Linked DNA regions of Homo sapiens: all the other regions are linked to region 2. The links come from fine-mapping of genetic effects on gene expression. A gene starts in region 2. Each other region holds a variant in brackets. All regions are shown on one strand. Distances are between the middles of the regions.

Region 1 (6,801 bases), 500 kb before region 2:
ATTATCAAGAGAATACTCTTCTGCTTCACATGAAATGAAACAAAGTGAAACCTACTGGTTAGGGGAATCTATCACTTATGCCCTCTGGGGTTTATCATGTTCGCTAAAAATAAACACACTTCTTTGAGGACAGATGGAAAATGTGAGGTGACAATTCATTCTCCAGGAGAGCTCGTTACTTCCCAAGAGGCAAATTCTCACTTCAAGGTGTGGAATCCCCACCTGCATTAAAAAACCTCTGCAATCTATAGGCAAGCATGCCTACTGCAGTGAGGATTATTCTAATAAAACTGGAGTTTGATTGAAAACAAAAATAAAAACAAAGTGATAAGGTCCAACATATAGTTGCTGATATGGCCAGTCTTGCTTCCCTTATCACTAATCAGAATCTGGCAGCATGAGTTAGATTTTGTCATCTAAGAAAGATTTGCTTCTCTTTCTTATATTGGCATGTATTGTGTAAAGAGACTATAGCAAAATCCCAGCAGCCCAGCCAAGTAAAAAAGACTACACATGTTCAAATAGAGTGAAAGAATACTGCATCCTGTTGTATGGTATCCTGTCATGTCAGATTTTATTGTATTTCAGAGCTGGAAGCAACTTAAATATCATTTTATAGCCTCCTCATTTAATAGGCAATGCAAACAATGGCACAGCTTGGATACATATTCATTTAATAACTATTTAAATTTATTTAAATAAGTATTTGTTCACAGAATATTTACCAAGCCCCTACTTTGTGCCAGGCACTGGGCCAGGCCCTAAATATATGATGGGAAATAAAGTAGAAATAATAGTAGATGATCCTTACGCTCACAGATATTGCAACCTACTTGTGGAATTTATTGATAATAACATCATAGTTCATTAAAAGCTTTCATATAGATCACTAGTGTTCAGTAGAAACGTATTATGAGTCACTTATGTAATTTTTATATTTCTAGTCCTGTCTCCAGAGGTGAGAGTCCAAATCAATTGGCTACATTTTTTAAAATGTAAAAAGAAATAGGTGAAATTAATTTAATAATATACTTAATTTAATGCAATGTATTTAAAATAATCAATATAAAAAGTTATATAGTCAACACAAAAAGTTATTGATATGTTTTACATTCTTTTTTATATTAAATCTTCAAAATCCAGTGTGTATTTTACATTTACAGACATCTCAATTCAGATGGTAAATTTTCACCAGAAGTATTTGATCTATATTTAGATTAAAATTTACAGTTTAAAAAGAAGATTGGCAAATTCAAGTTGTATCAGGCATTCTTAAAAGTTTTCAAAGACCTGAATCAAGCAGGTCTTAAATTTAAGTTAATCAAAATTAAACACAATTAAATAATACAGTTCCTCAGTCACACTAGACCCATGCCAAGTTCTCAGTAGTCCCATATGGCCAGTGGCTGCAGTATTGGTGCTGTAGCTCTAAACGGCATCCTTTTATTTTTCTAAGAAATACATGAACAAAGCAGGGCAGGCATTACTGCCCACATTGTATACATGAAAAACAAACAAGCCTCGGAGACAGATAAAATGAGTCATCTGAGGCTGTACACTACTGCAGTGAGTGGTGGAATCAGAATTCAGTCCCAAGACTCCCAAAGCCTAATGATATTTCTCCTCCACCTCTCTGTATTAAAAATGAGAGTAAAGAGTCCTGTTCTGTTCACAGCACTATGTTAGGTTGTACAGAATCACAAATGCCAGATTAATAAATCTGGACTTGAGCCAGCCCACAGGTAACACACAAGTAGCCTAAGAGCTGAATTTAGCCACAAATGTGTTCCATTGAGCAGGTCTTGTTTTTCTTTTGCAAATCTAAACTTAACTGCTTCTCAATAGGACATGCATTTTTTAGTTTACCAGAAACCTCACCACCCCCTATTAATCATAACCATTCAGTTTCACTCACTTACTCTTCTTTCCCTAGCCCCTGATGCTTTTGAATTTGCAAACCCAGTGAGGCAACAAGCATCATTAACAGTTTTCAAGCAAGGAATGAGAGTCACCCAATACTGCTTTCAAAAGACTAATCTGGTCCTCTGTGCAGGCTCAGTTGGTATCAGTAAAGACTAGAATCTAAGAAACTAGTTTAGTACTAGCCTGTTTAAAACCTCATTTGCCCCTTTCAGATTTTTCTTCTAGCTCTCATTAAAATATTTTTTGACCCCAAAAGAATCTTCCAGAATATCTAAAGTTTTTAGTGACTCAAAAGAAGCTTTTAATGAAAAGATAGAGCTACACACACACACACATAGAGCTGGTCCCTACCTGCAGGGCATCTGGATGACTCCTATGGAAGGCTTTTGAGTTCAAGATTAAGATAAGGATTTTAAAGATGTAAAGACATCTTTTTTCCTCCCCTGCTTCCTTGCTAGGATGCACTGGACAAAACTTATATCTTCTATATATCTGTGTTCTTTTCTAGTCAAGTGAAAATTTATTAAAGCAAAAGCAATCAATCAAACTTGTTTTTCCAATATGAGTTTATCAGTTAATCTGGTGCCACTATGACATAACATATTCATCATAACTTGGGAGAAGGTAAGAATTTGTTTAAGTCAATTCACTGAAATAGTCCAACTACATTTTTTGTAATTCATTTCAGAGTTAGTTTTCCAGATACGAAAAATATGTTCTATTACTTGAATCTACATGTTTTGATGATTGCGTTGAGTAGGTGAGTCTAATACAAAAATTCTCAAACCTGAATATTAGAGTTATGGGGTGGGAGTTGGGGAAGAAGTTTAATTAACAAGCAGATTTCTGAGACCCAGAATTAGATTCTATAATAATTCAGTAGGTCTAGGGCATCTCAAATCCCATAGGCGAATCTGATGCAGAAGATACCTGTATACCACATTTTGAGAAATATGGTATGAGCAATTGGCCATGGATCACAGCTCTTTCACCTGGATCAGAGATCCCTAGATTTATTGAAGATTACTTACCAACTAAGATGAAGTATATTGATTGCATTCATAGTGCGAAGTAATGGTTGCTTTGTGTGCACACTTTCTGCAATGTGATTCTGTGGATCCTCCCGTCAAGAGGAAGATTCTACTTCCCTCCCTTTCGAGTCTGGGCTGGTCTTGTGATTTGCTTATAACTTTGCAGTGAAAGTATCAGCACATCAGCTCCAAGTATGGGCCTTGAGAAGTCTTGCATGCTTCTGTCTCTCAGATCCTTGTCACCACCATGGGAACAAGCCCAGAAGAGCCTGCCAGAGGATGAGACTGCATGGAAGAGATTCCAATTGTCCCATTCAAAGTGACCTTAAATCAGCCTACAGTCAGCCAGCCATTGAACGTGTGAAAGAGCCCAGCCTAGAAAAACAGAGCTCCCTATCTGTCCCACAGTTGGCTAGAGACTCACAGTGAGCTGGCCAGTGTCAGAAGTATCCAGCCAAACCAAGGGCAATAAATCTTACTGTTTTAGGCCACAGAGTTTGGGGTAGCTTGTTATGTAACA[G/A]TGCTAACCGACACATAAGGCAGAGTACCTACCATCTGTCCTCTCTTCAGGCAAGTTTGAATGAGAAAACAATTCCTTCATAGGAAGAAAATACATCTGTTATTGTGGCAGATAAACCCATGGGCAGACTCTTACCATTTGATTTCACTGGGTTTTATCATGGCCCTATAGTTCTCCCAGCACTGGTGGACCAAGGTGATGGCCAAGGAGAAGTGATATCCAGGCCCCAAATAAAGTAATAGTTAATAACAAAAAGCAATGTTATTTAAAAGCATTGCAAGATTAAAGACCCAAGCCAAAACTTAATGAAGAATTTTTTGTGTGTGTTCCATCAAGGTCTTGCTGTCCATTCACCATAAAAGAACATAGTGAAACTCTGTCTCTACTAAAAATACAAAATAATTAGCTGGGAGTGGTGGGTGTCTGTAATCCCAGCTACTTGGGAAGCTGAGGCAGAAGAATCGCTTGAACCTGGGAGGCGGAGGTTGCATTGAGCCAAGATAGTGCCATTGCACTCCAGCCTGGGTGACAGAGGGAAACACTGTCTCAAAAAATAAAAAAAAATTTAAAAAAAGCAAAAGGAACACAACAGATACAGACTTTATTCTTTTGAATGATAAAGGAGACATGTAATCTGGCATTTTTTTTCATGTTTCCTGTAAAATCCTTCTAGTCCACGTGAATTCTTCAAAAGCATTTACAAATCAGATCTTTTAAGGCTCCCTAAATGCAAAACCAAAATTCAGACTTTTCCAATAATTCAAATATGGCTCTGCTGAATCTCACTGCTGCTAAATTATTGCAAGCTGTTTCATGTGTCTAGAATCCAAATGTTAGAAAGATCAGGTCTCATAAAAGAAATGCATCTTTGGGGTCTTAGAATATTCATCGTTTTGGCACCAGTTGCATTACTCTCTTCTTGTAAAGAAATGTCCATGGCACAGGGAACTCTTGGAGCAGTGGGTCGCAGAATAGCAAGCATGCCATATGCTCAGCAGTTCACAAGCACAATGGCCTTATGTCAAGGGTGACATTTTGACTAAGAATCTCTTTACAAACTCGACTTTACATGAATGTAATGGGTATGTCACATTCAAAGGCAAAAAGAGTTACTTCTTTTGTTTGACAGATAATTATTTCACCCGTACAGAAGAATGAACAAAGCCTGTCAAAATCATAGCCTGTCCTCATCGCTGGCCATCTACAAACACACAAAAAATGGAAATGAGACTAACAAAGTCTATTTGCCCATTAGAGCAAATATTGACCCCACTGGCCCCATATGCTTTCCATACCTTTCTTAAAGATTGCTCCTTATAACAAAATGACCAAAAAAGCCAACAAAAGAGCCACAAAGCTACTAAGTCACATTCTGTAGCATTTTATAAAGTTACATATGCCAGAAAAGAAAACAGGGAGAGAAAGCTATATCACAGACTCCAAGACGATTTCCCACACCTTTCAACAAATTTCCTACCAGGTATGAGTCCCAGGTTTTTATAATCCTAAAGCAAGGAAAGTCCTATGGTTTCATAATCCTCATACTTGGAAGCAAAAGTCTAGAAGTCAAAATATTTCTAGATCATATTTTCAGAAGAAGGTTTTCTCGCCATTTTAGGTTAAACCTACAGAGCCTCAGGCTTTCTGATTATACGGATCCTGACGTCTGGCTGTTTTACTAGTAGCTTAGTGACTTCCAGTTCACGTTTGCCAACACTCTAGGAGTGCCCTCTTAGTGTGAGCGGTCAGAGATGATTAACTGAAAAATATTTCCAAGTTAAACATTGATTTGCCTCTGCCTCCATTTATTCCTATCTTGGATGACCTTTCTAACTCTTTTTTTTAAACAAAGAAAGCAGGCACCAGTGGCTTTGCGTTTCTCAGTGAAAAGCAGAATTCTGCATTTGTTAGTTTTTGTGGTTTTATCTTATAAAGAAATGAGTAGGGTATTGGGGCAATCCAAGGGAGACTATTTGCTTTTCTTTGAACACACTCACACACACACACACCTACACACATAGATGCACACTAACTCACACACACAGGCACACAATACATATAGACTCATACATACATACACACATTCATGCACACATATACACACAGGTGCACACACATACACACAAGTGGCCACACACACCTATACACACAGATGACTCACATACACACAGACACACACACACAGACTTACACATACATACACACAGATACATACAGAAATACATACACACCCCCCACCCCATACTCATGACTTGAATGAGGTCATTCTGTTATGTTTCATTTCAGTTACCATTTTACTTCAGTATTTGATCTACACCAATTCAGAAGGTATGAAACTAGCTTAGCTTATGAGGGAGCTGAACGCTCTCCTCACAGTTTTCTTCCTACACTTTAGGAAAATGGCCTTATATATTTAAAATAGCTATCTCTAGGTCTCAAGCCCCTATTTTTGAATCCATGACCAAATCCTGCTGCATTTGAATCTCAGACTATTTCCAAAGCCCATAAAATTTTATATTTTGATAGACTTCATTATATTGAAAGAGAGAGAGTGAACATCAAGGGTAAAGGAGAAAGAATACTATGCTGAGGTCAAACGAATGAAGCACAGGTATCTGTTATGTTATTTCTTTATTTCCAACATATCCAGCTGTCTCACAGAGGCTAACATAAAAACCAAAACATCTGTGCACATGAAAGATTTTTCTTTTTACTAAAGATATATTGTTTAATTTTTTATATATTTTTTTCATACAAATATAATGTACCCTTATTCTAATTTTTGATGTCCTTATAGAATCTGGAATAAGTTTGTATAGCAAAGATAAGAAACAACTTCCTGGGAAAAGGGCATTTATGATCTAAAATTATCTAAAATATCGCATACCAAAAAATAGGCCAAATGTGTTTACATCTTTTTCTTTATCTTTTTTTTTTTTTTTTTTGAGATGGAGTCTCACTCTGTTTTCCAGGCTAAAGAGCAGGGGCACAATCTCGGCTCACTGCAACCTCTGTCTCCCAGGTTCAAGTGATCCTCCCACTTCAGCCTCCCAAGTAGCTGGGAGTACAGGCATGCACCACCACACCCAGCTAATCTTTATATTTTTAGTAGAAAAGGGGTTTTACCTTGTTGGGTAGGCTGGTCTCAAATGCCTGACCTCAAGTGATCTGCTGACCTCAGCCTCCCAAAAGTGCTGGGATTACCAGTGTGAGCCACCAAGCCCAGCCTCTACATCTTCTTCTGATGAGAAATTTCGCACGTGAATATTGGTGGATGTTAGGAAATTATTGTTAATATTTTTAAGGTATGATAATTTTGTTGCAGTT
Region 2 (6,801 bases):
CATCAGAGGGTCTGTGTGAATGACTCCTGGCTCATCCTATGTCCATCTGCTCCTGCCTCTTCTCACCGCATTGCCCTGGATTTTAAAAATTCTAACTTAAAATGGGAAATTTCTCGATTTTTTTTCCCTGGAAGCTTGTCAATGATATAAATGTTAAATTCATGGTTCAATGATATATTTTTTAAATTTCTCAGTAAGCTATTCTAAAATTAGCTTTCTAATTGTGCACATTGCTTCTTCCTCTCAGCTCTGTGCCCTTTGCCATCTTCACTGCGGTCCTCTACTTCCCCCGCTCCTCCCCAGTCTTCCACTAGCAAACAAACCCAGCAGTAATTACTAATGTCCAAGCACGTAATTCCGGCAGCATTAGGCTTTTCATTTGACGCAACTACGCAGACAGCTGTCTGGACATGCAGCATGAAGTTAAAGCATTTTTAAAGATTCCTGCCCATATTTTCTCTCCTCCACTACTAAAACACAGTTGTTTATTTTTGTCTGCAGATTGCAAAGTTATAAACTTCTTTTATACGTTTACATACTCATATATAAATGTCCACCCAAATAATTTTACATCCATGCAAAATAACAGATCAACATATACATACATGGAAACACATGGTCATCTATAAAAAGAAAAAACACTAGGAAATAATTAAATAGCAGCGAATGAAATTACCTTCTGTATATGGACAGGGAATTTTAGTGTCTGTAGCATACAGATGATAGGAGGTATGACTATCTAAACACAATCCAAGTTCTCATTTGGGGTCTTTTAAGGGGATCATGATAGCGTTTCTTTAATGCATTGTATAGATTATTACATATGACGCTGTTACTCTTTTTTGCTAATGACTCAAATGGCATAATTTTGACTCTGGTCATTTTTATGCCAGTTTTATCTACATCAAACAGAGAGAAATACCCCTGATGACTTTTGCTCTCTCAGATGCTCCAAGCCTCAGAGTAGAAAATGGTTAAAGTAGTTATTACCACCTCAGCAAAATCCCGCAGTGCCATAAGAGAAATTGCAGTAGACCTTTAGGTCAGAGTTAAGTTCTAGTTTAACACCATGGTTCTTTACCTGCATTACCCTGAAGGACACACTTGGATTCTCCTGAGGAAGGCCAGTCTTAATATTGTCAAAATCTAAAGCTATCAGCCTGCGATAACCAGTGCTGATAGCAAATACTTCCAGTAACTCTGAAACCGTGGCCAAAGAGGTTAAATCTATTCAGTACAGGACCAGTAAAATTTCTCAGATATGTGTTTTTGTGGATGAATGCTTGTATTCATGCCTGATTGCAAGGATGGGGGAAGAAGGAAAAGGAAGAGTGATTCATTCTTAAAGTTGATTCTGCTTAGTTCAGCTAATCTCACATTTTTATCAAATGGAAACATAGAGAGAGATGTATCATCCCTATAAACAGATAGCATTGGCTTCTTCATATATACAGTACTTATGCTCACCCAAGATCTGTAGACAGATCTACTCTGTGTTAAAAAACAAAACCAAACAAAAACCTTGATACCCTGCTGGAGGATAAATCCATATTTTTTAAAAAATGTATTTATTTTCTACGTAAAATAAGGGTCAGAGGGCAACACAGAAGATTTCCACAAGTAGACTATTTTGTTGAAGCTATGCAGGAGGTGAGGAGGGGAACAGGAAATTGTCTGCAAAGGAGTCTCTGTGAGGAAGATTTATTTCTTTCTTGTTTTCTTTTAAGCTACTATGACTCCTCTATTAAGGGTCTCCGTAAGACCGGGGTCTCAGGGAGACAATTTGGTCTCCAGCCCTGGCACATCCAGCCCCGGCCAGGCATTTCTGCCGCAGGCAGATGAGGCGCTGCGGCCGGACCGCTGTCCCCGGTGCTGAAAGGTCGAGGGCGCCCGCGCGAGCCCTCGGTGTTGCTATCCAGGGTGCTGAGCGCGGGCCGCCGCAGTCCCCGAAGCCAGCCCACCCGCGCCAGCCCTCCGCAGAGCCCTCCCACCCGGCACGACCCGCCCGCCTCCCGCCAGCCTGCAGTTGACGTGGAGCAGGCGGCATAAATCAAGTCCGCGGGGCATGGAGGCTGCTGTCGCTGCAGCAGCTCAGCTTGCCCGGGGCGGGAACTCCCCCTTTCTCCTTTCGCCTCCCCAGCACCCACACCCTGTCTCCCCCTTAATTCTTCCCTGGATAATAGCACCCTAACGACAACAGTCATAATAATAGGGTTAGAACGACAGGGGAGGAAAACTCAACAGCCTAAATATCTCTGAAAACTGCATCGCAAAATGGAAGAAAGAGGGGGTCCCACTACTGTTTCAAAAGAGTAAGTTATTATTCGGTACGTACCCTCGCTCTTCCTCCCCGTCGCTCCATTTGCAGGGCTCCCGTTTCCCTTTTCCCCAGCAGCTCACCTCGAAAACACTTTATAAAGCCCCCACCAGACGTGCACACACGGAATACCGCACCCTAAGTGCACCAATACTTGTATTTACCCAAGCCCACTCGGACTGCCCAGCTGCTGTCCCTTCTGGGTATGCAGCCATCCCGAGCCAGAGCCACGACCTGGGGAGGGGGGTTCTTACCTGGGCTTCTCGGGAGGGTTGTGTTCTCCGGGCCTCTGCAGGTTGCAACTGTGGTGGAGCCGCCGAGCAGGGAGGGAAGGAAAGACAGCGCCTGACCTCCCCGAGGTTTCGTCTTCAATGCAACGTGAGCTCTGCCCTCATCAAAGATGGCCGTCCGTTTTGACGTCAGCAGCTTTTAATAGCCGCCCAGCGAGGGGCGGGAGGAAGTGGGGGCGGGGCACGGCGGGGGCGGGGGCGGGGCCCGGGCTGCGGCGCGCTTGACTCGGTTCCCAGTGCGCTGGCCTGCAAACCTGCGTGTTTTCACCTTCTATAAACACCCGCACGGGGCGACTCTTATGACTCCATTTTAACACTCGGTCTTGGGCAAACGCGTTCATCCCGCAACTGCATTCCTGATGTTCTTTGGTGTGTGTGCGTGTGTGTGTACATATGTGTATATGTGTGTGTATGTATATATGTATGTGTGTGTATATTTTATAATACATGTATAATATATGTATAATTTGTGTGTATGTGTATATATTCCCCCCCACCCCCACCCCCACCCCCTTTCAGTGGAATCTGTGGTTGAGTCATCTAAGGAGAGGGGAAGGCAGAGGAGGGGTAAAAGGTAGTGATGGGAGGGGTGGGGGAAATTTCAGCGGCGATTTGTTTTCTCCGAAGAGGGTCCGTAGGGGCATCCCCGTCCACCCTCGCCAGCTCCATATATGGCCAGGCTACGTGGGTTGCTATTTTTATGAGTGATTGCTTCATGTTATCGAAGCAGCGTCGAGGGCTTGTGGCTCTCGTTGCTGTGGTCAGCCGGGCAGCGAGGCTGGCGCACGTTATTTTGAACTACGTCAGAGCCAGGCTCTCTGAGCTGTTGCAGGAGTCGGGGGAAGGAGAAGGGAAGCGGAGTTAGCCCAGCCAGCGTGGGTTTGCAAGGACTCGAGGCTTGAAGTTGAGTTGTTTGCCGAGGGCAAAAACGGATGACTCTGCTTTCGGTGGAATTTGCAGTCGGTGCTGGGGTTTCATGCTGGGTGTCTTAGGGGTACCCCACGGAGGCACAGACGCCCCGAGGGAACCGTCCAAACGGCCGGGAGGAGGTGGGGGATTCAGAGCAAGGACGGCTGGGACACGGCCGAATCTGGGGGTTCACTCAGTGCGCAAACCCCGGGGTACCCGTGCAGGCTGCCTCGGGGGGCCCTCGGATGCTCAAATCAGGGCGGGGAGACAAAGGCTACTTGTGCTGGTCGTATTAGAGATTAAAAGTGATAATTATAAAGCAACAACCCTAACTGTCCTCCCTGGCCGTGCCCGGGCCCGGGAAGGGGGTGGTGCGCGGATCGCTCGGCGGTGGCAGCCTCCCGGATGATTCACAGGTGTTGGGGAGGCTGTCGCGGGGCTCTCCGCAGGGAGGGAGGGCTGGGGAGCGCGTGGGAGGTGGGGGACCTCGTCTGAGGAACTGTTTGTACTTTTCCGGGAAGGATGCGATTAGAAGTCGTGCCTCGCAATGTTAAAACTTGATGGCCTCTTTTAGGCTATGGAAAATCCTTGTCTCGCTTAGGAGAAACCATTTAGAGCTGGGTTCGGAAAAGCGGCGTACAACCTCTCCCCTTGCACCCTCGCCCCCCACCCCCGCCCCACCACACACACACACACACACACACACACACACACACACACATCCCTAGCTGGCCTGAGAGCCAAGCTTAGGCAATAATACGGCCTTTGATTGCGCTCCATTGCGGAGGGAGGGAAGCGGGGTAGGGGGAAGGGAAGAAGAGTTGTGAAGGCGCTGCGTTTAGAAAGAGACGGGTTGTTAAGAATTTAATAAAGGATACCTTTAATCGAAATTAGTAGACATAATTGTTTCTTAAAGATTCCCTGGCCTGAAGGCTTTTTTTTGACGTATTGATGTTTTTGCCATAATAATTAACAGTGTTTGGATGTTAATTAAAGCCAAATTCCTAAAAAAGGCATGTTGCTGAAATTTGTTTACTTAAATATTCATTAAACATTTAAGATTGCCATACAATAAAGAAGAAAATCTGCAAAGTCCTTAGATACTTAATTGCCAATAAAAGTCTCTTGAGTATGGCTCTTACTTTCATTATAAAGCAAGTTGGAATAGGGGGAAAGGGGTTTGAATGCAATGTACTGCAAAATCCTTTGTAGTCAGAATTTTTTCCAAAGTGTGACACTTTAAAAAAAGGCAGCATGCGGAAGTTTGAAGAGAAAAAAAAACCTGCAGAGGGAGAAAAAAAAATGTGTGTATGGCCCTCAGACTAGAAATCATTCAGGCAGAAAGTTTTGTGAAGGAATGGAGGAGGTGGGGGATTTTCCAAGTTAAAAAAAAAAAAGAAGTTAAAAAGCAACTACGTCAGTGATGGAGGCTTATCCTGCAGGCAAAAGCTATGTAGCAGTCACAGGGAAGGACTGGCTTGGTATTCTGAGTTTTCAACTGCTGATGCCCCACACTGACATCTATAAAAATGACAGACAAGAAGAGAGAGGCAGACTGTTTCAAGGCATTACAGAAAATACCATGGACCCTACAAGATTAGCTGGTGGTGGTGACAATGTTTTCCATTGCTAGTGCTTGTTGTGAAAATGATGCTGTTTGAGAGGTTCTTAGAGGTTCTTCATCTTGCTCTGGGAAAGGTAACAGAGTGTAATTTGAGATACATAAACATTGGGTACATAAAAATCTGCTAGGGATGACCAGATAACCCTAAATGTATTTTGAATAGGATAATGAGATTTTTTTCCCTTAGGATTTTCTCACGGCATGATTAAAGCAAAACAAAAACAAACAAGAAAACGTCATCATCTTTGCCAGTAGAGAACCAGCAGATTCATGATACTCAGGGTTTGCAAAGGCCTGAACCACACAGGGAAGGAAGGTGATGGAAAATTTGTTCCAAAATGGTTCAGCTGCTATGGGTTATTTCTGCAAAGAACTAACACACAGAGTATCTAATGCTTAGGATGAGTAACGAGAAAATTACCTGCTCTGCTAGATGGATATTTACACTGTGATAATTCAAGCCTCTGAAAGCTTTTTTGGTACATTATGCCCCAAAGTATTCTGGTTTGCAGTAGCTCTAGGTCCAAGGTATTTAGCTTGTATCTCCAAGGTAAGGTGCAAGATTCATAGTTGACTCAATAACTACAATTTTATAAGTCATAATAATAATAACTTTTCTAAAATCCCATGTGATCTTTCCAAAGTCAACTTGGAAGCAGTTTAGAGATAGCCCAGCTCAGAAGCCCTCTCTCCAGGGTCCTCCTTTGGGACATGCCTGGCACCCTATGACAATGTTTCAAAACACTGTGAGGGCAAAGAATATTCAGTTCTGCGCAAGAATATTCAGTTTGATAGAGCAACTGTTTTGATTCCTTGGTTTGCTTTCCAAGTGGTTTGCTTGCCACTTTCTCTTCATATATTCTTCTAGCCCTTAATCCAGCCCCCCACCCCATTTATATATAGTGAAGTAGCGGTACCTTAAAATGCCTCGAGTAGTTTAACTCTAGGTTTAAACTATCCAGGCTGTTCTTGTTCCCTGAAGCCTCTAAGGTAGATATAGATCTTGTGAAAGGTAAAAAGAGAACCAGGAATATTAGTTGCTGTTTCTGGTTTGCCAGGTTAAGAAAAAATAGGACTGTACACTCAGAATATTAAATAACACTTTATTCTTTATTACAGACAGTATGGTGAGAAGGAAGAAGGGGAGTGTCCAGCAGCCACAGGCTGGATGTTTCCACACTTTTGTTCCTTGATGCACCAAAATTACAGACTTTCTTTTACAATGCATCCTAGGACCCTTCCCAATGCTGAGACACGCCTGTGGTCCAGTAGGGAGGAAGAACCTGTGACAATTAGGAACAGAGAGGCAGAGAAAATGGTAGTCCAAATTAGTACACTTCAAAAAGGCTATTTGTTAGGGATCACAGTATTCCTTGAGTAAATCTTTTAGGAATCATATTAGTTCTGTAACCTCTTTGTATCTCAATTATCTCATAGGTAAAATGGAGACAATAATTATAGCAAATACACAAGGAAATTATGAAGCACTGAGTGTCATGTCTAGCACTATGAAGTATTGGCTAAATAAAATCTATCATTTTGATGAGACTTTAACTTTATTTCTCTAAGAAATGACATGTAGCTTGGCTTTAATATGGAGGATTGCCATTTTTTTCATTAGCTATTAATTAGATATGTATCAATCATACTGGGCCTTGTTT
Region 3 (6,801 bases), 150 kb before region 2:
TTTTCCTAATCTCAGGTAATGCTGCCTTTAACCTTCTAGTTGCCCAGGCTCCATCCTTAACTCTCTTTCTTTTGTATTCCATCAGCAAATTCTAACGGACCTGTTTCTAAATATGTTCCAAATTTAACCACATCTCTCTACCCACCACTGTCACCATTATTTATTGACTAAACTATTGCAAAGTCCTCCTAATTGGTCTTTTCACATCCACCCTTGCCTCATCCCACAGTCTGCTCTCAACACAGAGGGCAAAGAGAGTATGTTAAAAATTAGTTAATAAATAAATTAGATCATGTCATTTCTCAAACCCTCCAATGGCACTCTATCCCATTCAGAGTAAAATGCAAGGTTGTTAGTAAAACTTACAGACCTTACAAGGCCTAGTTCCCTTACCTCTCTGATTTCGTATTCCAACTTCATCTTTTTTTTTTTTTTGAGACAAAGTCTCGCTCTGTCACCCAGGTTGGAGTGTAGTGGCATAATCTTGGCTCATTGTAAGCTCTGCCTCCCGGGTTCATGCCATTCTCCTGCCTCAGCCTCCCAAGTAGCTGGGACTACAGGCACCCGCCACCACGTCCAGCTAATTGTTTGTATTTTTAGTAGAGATGGGGTTTCACCTTTTTAGCCAGGGTGGTCTTGATCTCCCAACCTCGTGATCCACCAGCCTCGGCCTCCCAAAGTGTCCAACTTCATCTTTTTATTCACTGCATTACAATCACAATGGCCTACTTCCTGTTCCTCCAGCATATCAGATACACTCCCACCTCAGGGCTATTGTACTAGCTGTTCTCTTTGCTTGGAATTTCACTCCCTTATACCCACATGGTTCACCCCTTGCTTAACTCAGATTACTACTCAAAATTCTGCTTTTTAGTAAGACTTTCACAGATCACCTTATTTAAAACTTCAAACCTCCTCCTTTCTGGATATTCATCGTATTCTTTCCTGCTTGATTTTTCTCCTTAGCTAGTATTACTATCTAACATACTATATATTTTACTCATTCAATGCCCAATTAGGAGCCAAATAAAATACTTTAAGCAATTTGGGAATTTGGAAAAGGGGGAGATTCATAAGGCAAGACTTCATGGAGTGGGAGGATTTGAGCGGACTTTTGAAGAAATGAGTGGGCTTTGAATAGTCAATGAGACGTGTACGGGTAAGAAAGTTAATACCTTTTGAGAAATGCAAATCAAAACCACAATGAGATACCATCTCACACCAGTTAGAATGGCAATCATTAAAAAGTCAGTAAACAACAGGTGCTGGAGAAGATGTGGAGAAATAGGAACACTTGTACACTGTTGGTGGGACTGTAAACTAGTTCAACCATTGTGGAAGTCAGTGTGGCGATTCCTCAGGAATCTAGAACTAGAAATACCGCTTGACCCAGCCATCCCATTACTGGGTATATACCCAAAGGACTATAAATCATGCTGCTATAAAGACACATGCACACATATGTTTATTGCGGCACTATTCACAATAGCAAAGACTTGGAACCAACCCAAATGTCCAACAATGATAGACTGGATTAAGAAAATGTGGCACATATACACCATGGAATACTATGCAGCCATAAAAAATGATGAGTTCATGTCCTTTGTATGGACATGGATGAAATTGGAAATCATCATTCTCAGTAAACTATCGCAAGGACAAAAAACCAAACACCGCATGTTCTCACTCATAGATGGGAATTGAACAATGAGAACACATGGACACAGGAAGGGGAACTTCACACTCTGGGGACTGTTGTCGGGGGGAGGAGGGGGGGAGGGAGAGCATTAGGAGATGTACCTAATGCTAAATGACGAGTTAATGGGTGCAGCACACCAGCATGGCACATGTATACATACGTAACTAACCTGCACATTGTGCACATGTACCCTAAAACTTAAAGTATAATAATAATAAAGAAAAAGAAAAAAAGAAGTTAATACCTTTTCCTCACCCATTGCAGGGGTCATAGCTGACACGTCTATAACAAAAGACAGATTAACAAGAGAAAAATGTAACAAATGTATTTAATCAAAGTTTTATATGACATGGAATCTTCAGAAATGAAGACCGAAAGATGCAGGGAAAACTGTATTTTTAGGCTAAGTCTGATGAAATAAGTGGATAGCTGAGGAGAAACATGACTGGACAAAAAGTGCATGATCTAGTAATAAACTGAGGAGGAAATTCAGCAAAGTCTCTTTGTTCAGCTTCTTCTTGGTCTCTCTGTGTAGCATTCCTTTCCCCAGGACATCTGTCATATGAGAGTATTATGATCTACTTTCAGGAAAGGTAGGTCATAAGGTCTTATGGCTTGCTTTGGGGAAGAAAAAGGGGTGAGAGACAGGATGGGGGGAGAAGATCAGGGAAACCTTCTAGCTTCTGAGGTCCTTCCTATCTCCTTCAGCTCAAAAATACTCAGTGTTCCAAAAAGTATCACAATACTTTGTAATACTGTGTTCTGAGTCCTGACCAGAGAAAGGGAGTAGTCCACATAAGAGAAGGTGTAAGCTATTTTCCTGAGATTTTTGGATGCAAAAAGATCTGACCTCTTAGTAAGTAGAGGATTTCAGTACTTTTTTAAAAAATTGGCACCTCCTTGAATGCAAGAACTATTTAATCTCTGTGTTCTCAAATTTTATCTATCTGGCATGGAATAGAAATTTAATAAATGTTGGGTGGATTATTCAATGAATAAATGGATGGATGGATAAATAGAAGATGGAGGTAGGAATGAATAAGGGATGGGTAGATGGATCAGTGGGTCAATGGATCAACAGATCAAAGGATAGATGAGCAGGCAGATGACACAAACTCTTGCATTCAGCTGCTTCCTGTTTAAATGACATTTGTCTCTAACCATAAAGATGATTCTACACTAGTGGATCAAAAGACTCAGATAATTTTGACCTACAACTGAAAAAAATCTTTCAAACAAACTATAAGACATTTTCACTTTTCTTTATGCTACTTCTACAGGTTCAGTCACTGGAAAACTTTCTATATTGGAAACTAAAGTTCCCTGTCATGCAATTCAAAACTAGACTGTGAAACAAAAGCTGATTATTAATTTCTTGGTCTAATCTTTATATGTATTTGGTAGGGAAAATGATAATTATCTTCATTATATAAGTGAAGCAAGTCAAAATATCATGCTTTGTGAATTCCAAGATGCTCATTTTTTCCCTCACATTTTAATATCTCTGAAATAAAGATGTATCTTCACACATCAATGGTGTTTTAGTATTGTGTCATAGTTTAATTGGCAGCATTTTTTCTCTCCTGGTGGCATTTTTTAAATGGTTTATTTGATAAGCATTGGTGTCTTAGAGCCATGAAACAAGATCAATAATTATCTCAACGTGTCAAACCCAGTCTATGGTGGAAGTGGGACTGGAACTAAGATTTCCTCAGTTTTTAACCAGTGTTTTAAAGACTAGATGAAATTTACACTAAAAAATGGAGCCCTTGGCAAATTGCTTTTATACCATACCTTATAAATTTAAAGAAACTATCATTCTCCTCTTCATGTCTCCCATTTGATGTTACAAGGGAAGAAATGTTGAGTTTCAGAGACAATATCTTATGATAATTTTCCTGCAGCTGGTACCTCGCCTAATGTTGCCAAATATAGCAAATAAA[A/C]ATACAGGAATGTTCCACATGTTGGATATGTTGGGGTTCATAAAACAACACCCCTAAATATGGCTCTTTGGCGTGCAGAACAAAGGAAGCAGCCTCAATATCTCTCTGATCTCACCAACCACCCCGATCCTGTCTCTCAACACTTCTCACAAAGCACAAGATGAGGTTATTCTCTGAAATTCCCTTATCTGCCTAGAAACCAGACATACCAAAAAATTGCACAATTGCCTTTGATTTCTTCCCTGAAATTCATCAACCAGAGAAGAGATAAACTCATATCACAGAGAAAGAGACTGAACATTAAACACCATGTCTAGAGCCCAGGCAAACTTTGTCCCAAACCATTGTTTGTTCTCAGGTCCCAATCAATTTCCAAAGAGAATCATTTACAAGATACTGCCTGCCACCCAGGTCCATTCATTCCGCACTAAAAATTATTCACTCCTATATCCCCATCTCCTCTTCCCCTATGAAGACGGGCATATATGCATCTGGACCTCACTGGGTTATTTGAGTAATCATCCTCCAGAATTCCCCTGTGCTTATGCATGTTAAATAAGTTTGTATGTCTTATTCTCCTACTAATCTGCCTATTGCCAGCTAATTTTCAGCAAACCTTTGGAAGGCACACGGAGGGGAAGCCTTCTTTTGTCCCGTATATTTGGAACAGACGCTGAAAAATAATGTATTGTTAATCTGAAATTCAAATTTAACTGAACATCCTGTATTTAATCTGGCAACCCTAACCTCACCCAACTTTCACAAGAAAGGAAATCAACAGACTGGTTTAACTTTCCACAAGATTCCACAAGAGTGCCAAGCAGGGGAGCTGGGCAGGGAGGTTGGGGCTTCTCCAGTGGGGTGGAAGGGCATTGTCTGACCCATGATCTTGGGAGCTCCGCTGATTCATTTCTTAAGATTCGTGCTGGAAGTGTGCCAAAACTCATTTCGGTTGAATGCTAACTGGCCTAGTGTTTAAATAAATATCAGACTGAAGCCAACTATCACCAACTTAGAAGGAACTTCCGGGGTAGACTGTTCTCTTTTAAAACTCATAGGTGGAATGGAATTTAATCATGAAATAAAAATACAGTTTTTAAAGGTTATTTTAATGTCATGAATAATAATCTAATAATTCTGCAAAGATTTCAAATATGTTTTACATATAATCCTTTTATTCTGCCTTCCATTCTTATTTAAAATTGTGTAAACATTTGTTGGTTCAAAAAGGATGGAGTGTTCCTAAAGTTATCTAGTAGAGGCATTCTCTCTTTGTAACTTTATTTTGTAGAGACAGGGTCTTGCCCCATTGCCCGGGCTGGAGTGCAGTGGCACCATCACAGCTCAGTGCAACCTGGAACTCCTGGGCTCACGTAATCCTCCTGCTTCAGCCTTCTGAGTAGCTGGGGCTACAGGTGCATGCCACCACACCTGGCCAAGACATTCTCTTTTACTAGATTTCTATTAGCTGCTGATCTTGCTTGACTTAACTACTTGAAAGCTTTAAATTATTGATTTTGTAGGTAAAATCCTCAGCTTTCACAATCACTAATTATAGTAGCACTTTAAACTCCTACAATAATGAATATATATTTATACTCCAACTTACTGATAGCATTTTAACATATAAAGGTTACAAGGAGATTTTTCACACCAGGTTATATCTAAATGATCTAGATGCTTACCTCTATTCAAAAATGAATATTCAGATATTAATGATAGATCTGAAATATGTACAATAATTATATATAAATAAAAATAAAAATAAATAATACTCCTGAAAGAATGGCATGCTTGTTTTATTTAATTTTTTCTTGAAAACACTGAAAATGTGGTCCTGCATCAGCCGCATTACTTGGGAGGAATTCACAGGCTCTCAGGCCCACTCCAGGCTTTCAAAATCAGACCCTCTGAGGGTGGGGCTGTGTTTAACTAGCCCTGCAGGATACGCAAGTTGAAGTTTAAAAAGCCCTGACCTTGCAACAGAAGGACCTGGCAGCTGGTTAGAAATGCTGGATCTCAATCCCAACCCAACCTAAGGAACTGGAATCTGCATTTTAACAAGATGCCCTGGTGATTTGTGTGTACCGGTAAGTCTGAGACACGCTGCCCTAGAAAATACTGTAACTGAAAGTTGTGTTTTATTCGCTGTCTCTAACCAGCTGATGCTGATGAGGAGCCTTCTAAGTAGGAGGTAAATGGGTACCATCCCTCTGAAAAACCCAGTCTTTTATGAAATCCACACCAAACCCATTCCTGGAACTAAGTTCTTATCACCTGCTTCAGACACATCAAGTTTGCCAAGGCTGGGCATGGTGGCTCACGCCTGTAATCTCAGCACTTTGGGAGGCTGAGGTGGGCAGATTACCTGAGGCTGGGAGTTTGAGACCAGCCTGACAAACATGGAGAAACCCCGTCTCTACTAAAAATACAAAATTAGCTGGGTGTGGTGGCGCACGTCTGTAATACCAGCTACTTGGGAGGCTGAGGCAGGAGAATCATTTGAGCCCAGGAGGCGGAGTTTGCGGTGAGCCGAGATTGTGCCATTGCACTCCAGCCTGGGTAACGAGAGGAAAATCCGGCTAAAAAAAAAACAAAAAACCTAAAATTTGCCAAAAGACTAATATTTTATTTTCTCTTCTTTCTGACCTGATGACGCCTCTCCCCAGTGTGTTGAGTTGCATTCCCCATCCACCCCCTTACTTTACCACTAGGAAAAAGATCTGATGTGTGAGGGTCAGAGTCCTGTAGACAGCTAGAAATTGACTTTTAAGTTTGAACTCTAGGTTAAATATTGATTGATTTTGATCTCTCAACCTAACACAGTCTTTGGGAGAAATTATTTGTGTTTAACCACTCTTATGGCCATAAGACTATTGCTTAAATTTAACCCCAATCCCTCCAGCAGCTGAACAAGTTTATCTCCATTATAGAAGAAAATTCTTGATTACAGCTCTGCAATCCCAGATGTGCTTTGGAATTTGAAATTTTTGGATTGTAGAAAGATAATACAGTGCATATATTGCATATTGCATTCCATCTCCAGGGGGATCTAAAGCAGCATCCTGTAATAAACACATTTAAGTCTCTGCAATAAAACACAAAAATTCACAGTAAGTGAGATAAACTGACATTATAAACAGCCTCATGTGAGTTCCG

Alleles and levels. Positions count from the first base shown, and alleles are read on the strand shown. Sizes are in standard deviations (SD) of each study's normalised expression.
With allele A in place of G in region 1, the expression in esophagus muscle of the gene that starts at base 2,719 in region 2 is higher (moderate effect, 0.65 SD a copy in GTEx).
As copies of C replace A in region 3, the expression in lung of the gene that starts at base 2,719 in region 2 goes up (moderate effect, 0.60 SD a copy in GTEx).

What was found. PIP is the estimated chance that this variant, and not a neighbour inherited with it, causes the effect.
Region 1: its variant is fine-mapped to the expression of SNAP25 in esophagus muscle (GTEx, PIP above 0.99).
Region 3: its variant is fine-mapped to the expression of SNAP25 in lung (GTEx, PIP 0.94).

The regions. Positions count from the first base shown.
Region 1 is chr20:10,709,905-10,716,705 of GRCh38, reverse strand. No RefSeq gene overlaps it. Among named protein-coding and RNA genes, the nearest start is that of JAG1, 39 kb to the right of the region's middle. The variant G/A (reference allele first, on the strand shown) is at 3,475.
Region 2 is chr20:10,214,748-10,221,548 of GRCh38, reverse strand. SNAP25 (synaptosome associated protein 25) reads right to left here and starts at 2,719. Exons shown (of 8, transcript NM_130811.4): 1 at 2,572-2,719. It overlaps SNAP25-AS1 (SNAP25 antisense RNA 1), which reads left to right and starts at 2,043. Exons shown (of 5, transcript NR_040710.1): 1 at 2,043-2,312. LOC124904959 (a long non-coding RNA gene) reads right to left here. Exons shown (of 2, transcript XR_007067723.1): 2 at 6,230-6,423.
Region 3 is chr20:10,367,646-10,374,446 of GRCh38, reverse strand. No RefSeq gene overlaps it. Among named protein-coding and RNA genes, the nearest start is that of MKKS, 63 kb to the left of the region's middle. The variant A/C (reference allele first, on the strand shown) is at 3,643.